Linked DNA regions of Homo sapiens: region 1 is linked to region 2. Evidence: fine-mapped expression QTL. Tissue or cell type: whole blood. Region 2 holds a variant in brackets; the other region holds the start of a gene. All regions are shown on one strand. Distances are between the middles of the regions.

Region 1 (5,168 bases), 72 kb before region 2:
GCACTTTGGGAGGCCAAGGCAGGTGGATCACCTGAGGTCAGGCGTTCAAGACCAGCCTGACCAATATGGTGAAACCCTGTCTCTACTAAAAACACAAAAATTACCCGGTAGTGGTGATGGGCACCTGTGATCCCAGCTACTTGGGAGGCTGGGACAGGATAATTGCTTGAACCCGGGAGGCGGAGGCTGCAGTGAGCTGAGGTTGTGCCACTGCACTCCAGCCTGGGTGACAGAGCGAGACTCCCTCTCAAAAAAATTAAAAAGAAGACAGAATTGCATCTAAGATCCACTGCCCTGGATACACAAACTGAATCTAATGAAGATAAACCCAAACTAAGGGACATTCTACAAGGTAACTGGTCTGCTCTCTGCAAAACATCAAAGTTGCAAAAGACAAAGACTGATTAAGACCGATCCAGAATCCGCTGGCACGGTGGCTCACGCCTGTAATCCCAGCACTTTGGGAGGTCGAGGCGGGCAGATCACCTGACGTCAGGAGTTCGAGATCAGCCTGGCTAACATGGTGAAACCCTGTCTCTACTAAAAATACAAAAAGTAGCCGGGCATGGTGGCGCATGCCTGTAATCCCAGCTACTCGGGAGGCTGAGGCACGAGAATTGCTTGAACCTGGGAGGCGGAGGATGCAGTGAGTGGAGATTGTGCCATTGCACTCCAGCCTGGGTGACAGAGTAAGACTCCATCTCATAAAAAAAAAAAAAAGACTGATCCAGAATCAATATGGCAAAACCCTGTCTCTACCAAAAAATGCGAGCTGGGCATGGTGGCGCGCACCTGTATTCCCAGCTACTCAGGAGGCTGAGGCAGGAGAATCTCTTGAACCCAGGAGGCAGAGGTTGCAATGAGCCGAGATTGCACCACTGCACTCCAGTCTGGCGACAGAGTGAGATTCCGTGTCCAAAAAAAGAAAAAGAAAAAGAAAAAAGACTGATCCAGATTAAAGAAGGTTAAAGGCTATGACATTGATCCTTGACTGGATCCTAGACCTGAAAAAAGTTTTCACTGCAGAGGACAAGCAGGATAATCGGGGAAACCTCAGTAAAGTCTGTGGGTGGATAATGGTGTTTTGTCCATGTTAATTTCCTGATTTTGACACGTGTGTTGTGATTATGTAAGAGAATGCCTTGATTTTAAGAAATGCCCAACAACTAGTATTTAGAGGTAAAGAAACACGTCTTCAACTCACTCTCAAATAATTCAGAAAATATCCCCAGAAAGAGAGGTGTGGATGAAGGTGAGTGAAAGACTATTGGAGTGACTGGTACCGTTTTGACACCCAGTAGCCTTTCTGTAAATTTGAAATTTCAAAACTGAAAGTTACAAAGAAAAGGAGAAAAGTGACTAGGCACGGTAGCTCACGCTTGTAATCCTAGCACTGTGGGAGGCTGAGACCAGAGGGTTGCTTAAGCCGAGGAGTTCAAGATTAGCCTGGACAACATAGTGAAACCTCATCTCCACAAAAATTTTAAAAACTAGCCAGGCATGGTGGTGTGCGCCTGTAGCCCCAGCTACTCAAGGGGCTGAGGCAGGAGGATCACTTGGGCCTGGGAGGTCGAGGCTGCAGTGAACTATGATCGCACCACTGCACTCCAGACCTCATTTCAAAAAAACAGGCCAGGCACGGTGGCTCATGCCTGTAATCCCAGCACTTTGGGAGGCCCAGGTGGGTGGATCACTTGAGGTCAGGAGTTTGAGACCAGTCTGGCCAACATGGTGAAACCCTGTCTCTACTAAAAATACAAAAATTAGCCAGGCGTGGTGGTGGGCACCTGTAATCCCAACTACTCTGGAGGCTGAGGCAGGAGAACCAGTTGAACCTGGAAGGCGGAGGTTGCAGTGAGCTGAGATCGTGCCACTGCACTCTGGCCTGGGCAACAGATCAAGACTCTGTCTCAAAAAACAAAAAAATAACAAAAAAGAGAAAGGTCTTGGCACATAGGACTAAATGTTCCATACAAGCTTCAATTTCCTAAATGTAGTTCCTCCCTGGCCTTCCTATGGGATTAGGGGACCCAGTGGACTTGTGTGTCTGAGCAGGCATTTGTCCAGCCTCCTTGGGGACAGATGGGAGGACTCTATTGGCCCCTGTCATGGTGTCACCCTACTGGAGAGGATAAGACTCTAACTGACACTACAGGCAGCTGGGGAGAGAGAGAGCTTTAGTTTCCAGGCCTCCCTCTTGGGAGGGCCACTCTCTGATAGCTGGGCTAGTCAGGGAAGGCTTCCTGGAGGAGTGGGCCTCGGACCTGAGAGAGCGCTGGGCTGCCTGGCCATGGCAGGGGAGCAGAAAGAGGACTCCTGGCTAAGGCTGAGGGCCTGGCTGGGGACACAGGCGGGGACAGTAAAGGGCTGGGGCCCAGGGCGGGTCCAAGGGAACTGTCTTCCCAGGGATCAGAGGGGTAGATCCAGGCTCAAAGACCAGGGACCAGGTGCCCAAGACCCTGCCCCGTTAGTCCTCACTGGAGCTGGTTGGCCCTGGGACTGCAAGGGTGGCCGTGCTGTCCCTCCCGTATTCCCCCCACGGGATGCCCTCCACCAGCTACTCACATAGTGCTGGCTGGGTACGAAGCGCTTCTCAAAGCCCAGCAGGGCGATGTGACGGATGAAGGTGTCCCCCATGACTGGGTGGCCTCCAGTGCTCCCTGGCACTTCCAGGCTGCGCCTTAAATGCACTGGAAAGAGGAAGTCGCTTTTGTCGCGGTCGGGACAGGGGGCAGGGAGGGTACAGAAAGGGCTTTGCTTCTTCTTTCAGTTTCTGGGGACTCTTCAGGCTTGCAGGGTGTAAACATGGGCAGACTCATGTTCACACACACCTGCAGGGACAAGGAAAAGGGTTTACACTTGTCCTTCCCGTCGCCTGCACGGGCCCCACGGGTTTTGGGGGTGAATCAAGCTGCTCCTGCCTCAGGGCCTTTGCATTTGCTGCGTCCCCTTGACCATCTTTCCCCCCTTGACCATATTCCTGGTCTTGACCATGTTCCCCCCATTCACCATCTTCCCTCCATAACTCTCCTCCATTTCTCTGCTCAAATGTCACCTCTTCCGAGAAGCCTTCCTTGATAACTTCACATTGCATAGCAAACCTCATACCTTTCTCAGCCTCTTCCTGCCTCCTTTTTCTGCAGAGCACTTATCACTGATGCATCGCAAATTGCATTTAATTTTTCTTTATTATTATTGCTATTGTTATTTGAGACAGGGTCTTGCTTTGTTATCCAGGCTTAAGTGCAGTGGTGGGATCACAGTTCACTGCAGCCTCCAACTCCTGGGCTCCAGCGATCCTCCTGCCTCAGCCTCTGGAGTAGCTGGGACTACGGGTGTGTGCCACCATGCCCGGTTAAATTTTTTTTAATTTTTTTGTACAGACAGGGTCCTGCTATGTTGCCCAGGATGGTCTCAAACTACTGGCCTCTAGTGATCCTCCTGCCTCTGCCTCCCACTTTTTTTTTTTTGAGATGGAGTCTCGCTCTTGTTTCCCAGGCTGGAGTGCAATGGCGCGATCTCGGCTCACCGCAACCTCTGCCTCCTGGGTTCAAGCAATTCTCTTGCGTTAGTCTCCTGAGTAGCTGGGATTACAGGCATGTGCCACCACACCTGGTTAATTTTTTTTTTTTTTAATTAGAGACTGGGTTTCTCCATGTTGGCCAGGCTGGTCTTGAACTCCTGACCTCAGGTAATTCACTCGCCTCGGCCTCCCAAAGTGCTGGGATTCAGGCATGAGCCACCGTGCCTGGCCTGACTTAATTTTTTTAGTCTCCCCTTACCACAATGTGTGTCCCAGGAAAGCTAGGGCATGACCGGGTTATCAGGGGCTCTAGCCCCAGCCCCTCCATCTAGTGCCTGGCACACAGAGGCCATAAATATTTGGATCGTGACTGCAACATTCACTGAGTGAATGAATGAGTGAGTGAATGAATGAATGAGTCAATGAATGAGTGAATGAATGAATGAATGAGTGAATGAACGCGGGCATGGGAGTGTGCATGCAAGCGTTAGATGCTCATCCTTGGGTGTGTGTGGATGAGGGCCAGTGACAGCTGGGACGAAAATGGCACAGACTTTGAGTGAGACTTGAGTTCCAATCCTCAAGTAAGCAAATGGTTCATTGAATTGTTCCTTAGGGCTGACTCAGTTTTCTCCAGAGTGATATTAAGACTGTCAGCTTTGCCAGGAAGGGGATTTGGGACAAAGAGGTGAGGAGGGGGCAGCATGCCCAGGGACAGGCTGAGGCCTCTCTCTCCCACTCCCCCTAGAGCCTGGGAGGCCCAGAGCTTTTGGAGCTCATTCAAGGTCATGAGTTCATGAGTGGCGGGCCTCAGCCCCAGGCAGCCTGCTGCAGCCTGTGCCTCCCAGCAGGCCAGGGCTGCACCAACTCACCCTTGCCTGAGTCCAGGGTCAGCTCATGGTCCGGACCTGATCTCCTGGGGGTGAGGGTTGAGGTCTGGCAGATGAAAGCCAAGACATGCTGGGCGTTAATTTATTTGTTTGAAGCGAAGTTTCGCTCTTGTTGCCCAAGCTGGAGTGCAGTGGCACAATCTCGGCTCACTGCAACCTCTGCCTTCCAGGTTCAAGCGATTCTCCTGCCTCAGCTTCCCAAGTAGCTGGGATTACAGGTGTGCGCCACCACGCCTGGCTAATTTTGTATTTTTAGTAGAGAAGGGGTATCACCCTGTTGGCCAGGCTGGTCTTGAACTCCTGAGCTCAGGAGATCCACCCACCTCAGCCTCCCAAAGTGTTGGGATTACAGGCATGAGCCACTGTGCTTGGCCCTTTTTTTTTTTTTTTTTTTTTTAAAGACAGGGTCTCTATCTGTCACCCAGGCTGGAGTGCAGTTGCCTGGTCATAACTCACTGCAGCCTCCAACTCCTGGGCTCAAGCAGTCCTCCTGCCTTGGCCTCCCCAGTAGGTTGGGACTACAGGCACATGCCACCGCACCTGGCCTGTTCCTGCTTTTATTATCCAGTGCATTTATTATCCAAGAGGTGTAGGGTCCACTCCACCTGCTCTGAAAGATTTGCTTGGCAAGTGCTTCACTTCTTTTTTTCTTTTTTTTTTTTTTGAGACAGAGTCTCTTTCTGTCCCCCAGGCTGGTATGCAGTGGCATGATCTCGGCTCACTGCAACCTTCACCTTCCGGGTACAAGCAATTCT
Region 2 (5,344 bases):
GGATCTTGCTATGTTGCCCAGGCTTATCTCGAACTCCTGGCCTCAAGGGAGACTCCCACTCTGGTCTCCCAAAATGCTGAGATTAGGCTGGGCGTGGAGGCTCACACCTGTAATCCCAGCACTTTGGGAGGCTGAGATGGGTAGATTGCTTGAGGTCAGGGGTTTGAGACCAGCCTGGCCAACATGGTGAACCCCCGTCTCTGCTAAAAAAATATAAAAATTAGCCAGGTGTGGTGGCGGGCGCCTGTAATCCCAGTTACTCAGAAGGCTGAGGCAGGAGATTTGCTTGAGCCTGGGAGGCAGATGTTGTAGTGAGCCAAGATCATGCCACTGCACTCCAGCCTGGGCGACAGAGCAAGACTCCATCTCAAAATAAATAAAAAAATAAATAAATAAATAAATAAATAAAAATAATAATTAAGTTTAAAAAAAACTTTTAAGTCTGAAATTTAACATAAACATGATAAATATTTCTCCATCTTAAAAGAGATTTACACAAAAATCCTACCACTAACATCATACTTCATGGTCAAAGACAGAATGCTTTCCTACTAATATCACAAGGTGATGTCTGCTATCACCAATGCTGTGTGACATTTATATTCTAGTCAGAGCAACAAGAAGAAGAAATAAGAGGCACTTAGATTGCAAAGAAAGGGGTAAATTGTCTTGATTCTCACACAACATGATCTCCTACATAGAAAGCCCAGAAATAAACAAAGAGTCAAAAGACTTTCAACAAAGATAACAAGGATATCTTGAGGGAAAGGACGGTCTTTTCTGCAAATTGTCCTGGAATCATTGGATATCCACGTGCAAAAAGATGAATTTATACCTTTACCTTGTATAATATACAAAAATGACCTCAAAATGAACCATAGATCTAAATGTGAGAGTTGAAGCTATAAGACTTGTGGAAGAAAACACAGAAGTCATATCTTCATGCCTTTGGGTTTACGCAATGGTTTCTTGAATATGAAGTCAAAAGCTTAAGTGAGGGCCAGGCGCAGTGGCTCACGCCTATAATCCCAGCACTCTGGGAGGCTGAGGCAGGTGGATCACCTGAGGTCTGGAGTTTGAGACCAGCCTGACCAATATGGTGAAACCCCGTATCCACTAAAAATACTAAAGTTATCCGGGCATGGTGGCGGGCACCTGTAGTCCCAGCTACTCGGGAGGCTGAGACAGGAGAATTGCTTGAACCCGGGAGGCAGAGGTTGCAGTGAGCTGAGATCATGCCACCGCACTCCAGCCTGGGTGACACAGCGAGACTCTGTCTCAAAAAAAAAAGCACAAGTTAACAAAAGAATAAACTTATTTTTATCAAAATTTAAAACGTTTGTGCCTCAAAGGATACTACCAAGTAAGGGAAGAAGACAAGTTATACAATAAGGATAATGTAGATTTATTAGAATTGGAGAAAATATTCCCAAATCCTGTACTCCAGCCTGGATAACAGAGTGACACCATTGCAAAAAGAAAAAAAAAATTTTTTTTTAACAAATCATCAATTAGAGACTTATATCAAGACTATATAAAAAACAAGACTCAATAATAAAAAGACAAACAAACCCAATTTTTAAATGGGAAAAGGACCTAAATAGATATTTCTCCAAAAAATATGTATGGATGACCAATAAGCACAATTGAAGATAACACAAGCCTGTAATCCCAGCACTTTGGGAGGCTGACACAGGCGGATCACTTGAGCTCAGGAGTTCCAGACCAGCCTGGCCAACACGGCAAGAGCTTGTCTCTACCAAAAAAAGGTTCAGAAATGAGCTGGGTATGGTGGCACACGCCTGTAGTCCTAGCTACTGAGAAGCTGAGGCAGCAGGATTGCTTGAGCCTGGGAGGTTGAGGCTGCACTAAGCTGAGATGGCGCCACTACACTCCAGCCTGGGCGACAGGGTGAGACCCTGTCTCAAAAAAAAAAAAAAGAAAGAAAGAAAGAAAAGTAAAAACACATCAACAATCACTAGAGAAATTTTTAAAAATCAAAAAAAATTAGATACCACTTCACATCTATTACAATGGCTAAAATCAAGAAGTAAGTTGGCAGCAATGTGGGGGTAACCCTCCTATCCTGCTGTGAGAATATAACATGGTATAGCCACCTTGGAAAACAGCTTGTCAGTTTCTTCAAAGTTCAGTGTAGCAGGGCGCGATGGCTCACGCCTGTAATCTCAGCACTTTGAGAGGCCTCCCTTGATCATGAGGTCAAGAGATTGAGACCATCCTGGCCAACATGGTGAAACCTCGTCTCTACTAAAAATACAAAAATTAGCCGGGTGTGGTGGCGCGTGCCTGTAATCCCAGCTACTCAGGAGGCTGAGGCAGGTGAATCTCTTGAATCCACGAGGCGGAGGTTGCAGTGAGCCAAGATCATGCCACTGCACTCCAACTTGGTGACAGAACGAGACTCCGTCTCAATTAAAAAAAAAAAAAA[AG/G]TTCAGTGTAAATTTACCCTATTCCTAGTAATTGCACTCCTACGTAAATATCCAAGAGATATCAAGGAATATGTCCAGACAAAACCTTGCTCAAGTATGTTCACTGTAACATTATTCCCAATACCCAAAGGTGGAAACAACCAAAATATCTATAAACTGATGACTGGATCAACAGACAGTATGTTCATGTCACAGAATAGTTAGTGCTCAGCAATAAAAAGAAGCTACGGCTACACCTACCAAGCTCGATGAGCCTCGAGTGAGTGATGCTCAGTGAAAAAAGCTCATTTCAATAGGATACATACTACATATTCCATTTCTACAACATTCATGAAATAACAGAGACAGGGACGATGAAAGCATCCCAAAATTAAGACTGTGATGATGGGTAAAAACCCCTTAAAAACATTTTAAGATTGTAAATCTACTATTAGTGAATTATATACTTAAGACAGGTGAATTTGGCTGGGCACAGTGGCTCACGCCTGTAATCCCAGCACTTTGGGAGGCCGGGGCGGGTGGATCATTTGAGGTCAGGAGTTCGAGATCATCCTAACATGGTGAAACCCCATCTCTACTAAAAATACAAAAAATTAGCCGGGCGTGGCAGCATGTGCCTGTAATCCCAGCTACTCGGGAGGCTGAGGCAGAATCACTTGAACCTGGGAAGCAGAGGCTGCAGTGAGCCAAGATCGCGCCACTGCACTCCAGCCTTGGCGACAGAGCAAGACTCCGTCTCAAAAAATAATAATAAAAAAAAAAGGCAGGTGAATTTTATGGTGTATCAATTATACCTCAATAAAGCTGCTAAAAAATTAATCTTTTCACCACAATGAGAATAAGACAAAGGTTAACAGAAAACACAATGTGTATGTTTATGTATATATAATTTTTTCCTTTCATAGTTACATGTTTAAAAGTATTCCAATGATACTGGTTATTTACTTCCGAAAGTCTCAAATAAACCTGGCTCTAAAGGGTATTACTCTTTATCCTGTTTTCCCTTCAAATGAAATGGCTAGACTTCCCTAAAGGAAGCTGAAATCCGCATCATTCTTCAAACGCCCTTCCTGGAAATGCTCTCTTCCTCATGAACTCTTTCCTGAACTATAAAGGAATCCAACCTCCAATAACATCCACAGCACTTTCTCAGAGCCATTCTTGCCGTAGGGATGCAATGTTCTTGCCATGTTCATTTTACAGAATTTTCTCTCTTCCGTGAGACTCACAGCTCTCAAAAGTGGTAATGCTGATACACAGCTGCGTATCCCCTCCCCACCCAATGCTGTGCCCAACAACGTCTTGCCGAGTCGATGACATTAGGTCAATTAAATCCTACTCATAATTCTGGTAAGTGAGGGCAGATGTATGATCTTCTATAGAAAACAAGCAGCGAAGCTGAAAACAAAAAAACAAGTCTCCACTTTTTTAGCTCAATGAACCTTTTGTGGATTATATAAACATCTAAACAGCCCATCCGAAAATGTCTGACATCATATTCTCAAAGACAATAAAACAGAAACCATTAAAGTGTATGAAAATCTAGCAAAACGGAGGCCAGCCAGCTATCAAGGAAGCAAAGCACTTACTTACCTACATGCTTCTTTGGCTCTAAAAAAGGTCTGCATTAAAACAAAACAAAACAAAACTTCGTATGAATACGCAAAATTATTGTAAAGCATACATTTAAATGACTTCTGTGTTAAATATGAATTTTAAAAATACATTAACGTAAGCTAAATATTCAAATTTATACGAATCAACTGTTGATGGGTACAAAGGGAGAAAGCACTTCACCTCTTAATGATGAATGAAATCCCTGCTTTGTTCTCCAAAATCCATTTCAGGGTTGCAAGATCATAGTTCTCGGGGTGTTTAAAGGCAACACCTTCCGGAAGCCCCTGCACTACCACAGCCGACTGGTCTCGCAGCATCTTCTCATATGGTACAGGTACCACTGTGGATTTGCCTAAAGCTTTCCCTGGGGCAGATGAAAAGCGGATGAACATCATTCAATGGTAAGATTACAAAATGAAATCATCGCTAGCTTATTGTGGCTTAATAAGGGCATCCATGATTTTTTATAATATATGATTTCAAAATTAATTAATACTACAGCATTCTATCTCCCCATGTCAGCAGAAGGTCTAAACCTGAAACTGATCCGAAGGGCCAAAATGAAAAGTAGATAAAATATTTTACTTTAAAAAACACATAGAGAGAGCAATGGTTGGTTTCTTGCACTATTGTCTTTCTTGAAGATGGTCCCATCCTGGCATATTCTCAGGTACAATTTGGCCTCAGAATACAGAAGCCCAGCACATCCAACTATTACCATAAAATACCAGGAATGTTTTGGCTAATATTCTCATTGAAAACTTATCAGGTAAATACAAACTTCCCATTTACAAATGAGTATATACTGTCAACCTATTGGGCAGCGAGCCTCACACATACTGAAAATCCCATTCCAGAGAATTGATTTTCACCTATGACCCTGCAGTAAAACCTCAATCTCCTCCTTTGACTGTTTTCTTGTAAGAGCTTTGTTTTATGATGTGACAAGAGTAAGAAAAGGTGGCTTTGCATGGAATTAGAGAGATGAGCATGCTTATTAGAAAGAAACAGCTAGGCCAGGCATGGTGGCTCACGCCTGTAATCCCAGCACTTTGGGAGGCCAAGGTGGGTGGATCACCTGAGATCAGGAGTTCGAGACCAGCCTGGCGAATGTGGTGAAACCCCATCTCTACTAAAATTTAACACAAAAATTAGCCGGGCATGGTGGCGGACACCTGTAATCCTAGTTACTCAGGGGGCTGAGGCAGGAGAATCACTTGAAACCGGGAGGCGGAGATTGCAGTGAGCTGAGATCGTGCCACTGCACTCCAGCCTGG

The links. PIP is the estimated chance that this variant, and not a neighbour inherited with it, causes the effect.
Region 1: it holds the start of NCF1, and the variant in region 2 is fine-mapped to the expression of NCF1 in whole blood (INTERVAL, PIP above 0.99).

What each region holds. Positions count from the first base shown.
Region 1 is chr7:74,771,501-74,776,668 of GRCh38, reverse strand. It overlaps NCF1 (neutrophil cytosolic factor 1), which reads right to left and starts at 2,658. Exons shown (of 11, transcript NM_000265.7): 1 at 2,566-2,658. The coding sequence starts at 2,637. RefSeq lists an enhancer at 3,832-4,377.
Region 2 is chr7:74,699,334-74,704,677 of GRCh38, reverse strand. It overlaps GTF2I (general transcription factor IIi), which reads right to left. Exons shown (of 35, transcript NM_032999.4): 5 at 4,248-4,431; 6 at 4,044-4,072. GTF2I-AS1 (GTF2I antisense RNA 1) reads left to right here. Exons shown (of 4, transcript NR_110044.1): 3 at 4,298-4,468. Among named protein-coding and RNA genes, the nearest start is that of GTF2I-AS1, 27 kb to the left of the region's middle. The variant AG/G (reference allele first, on the strand shown) is at 2,450.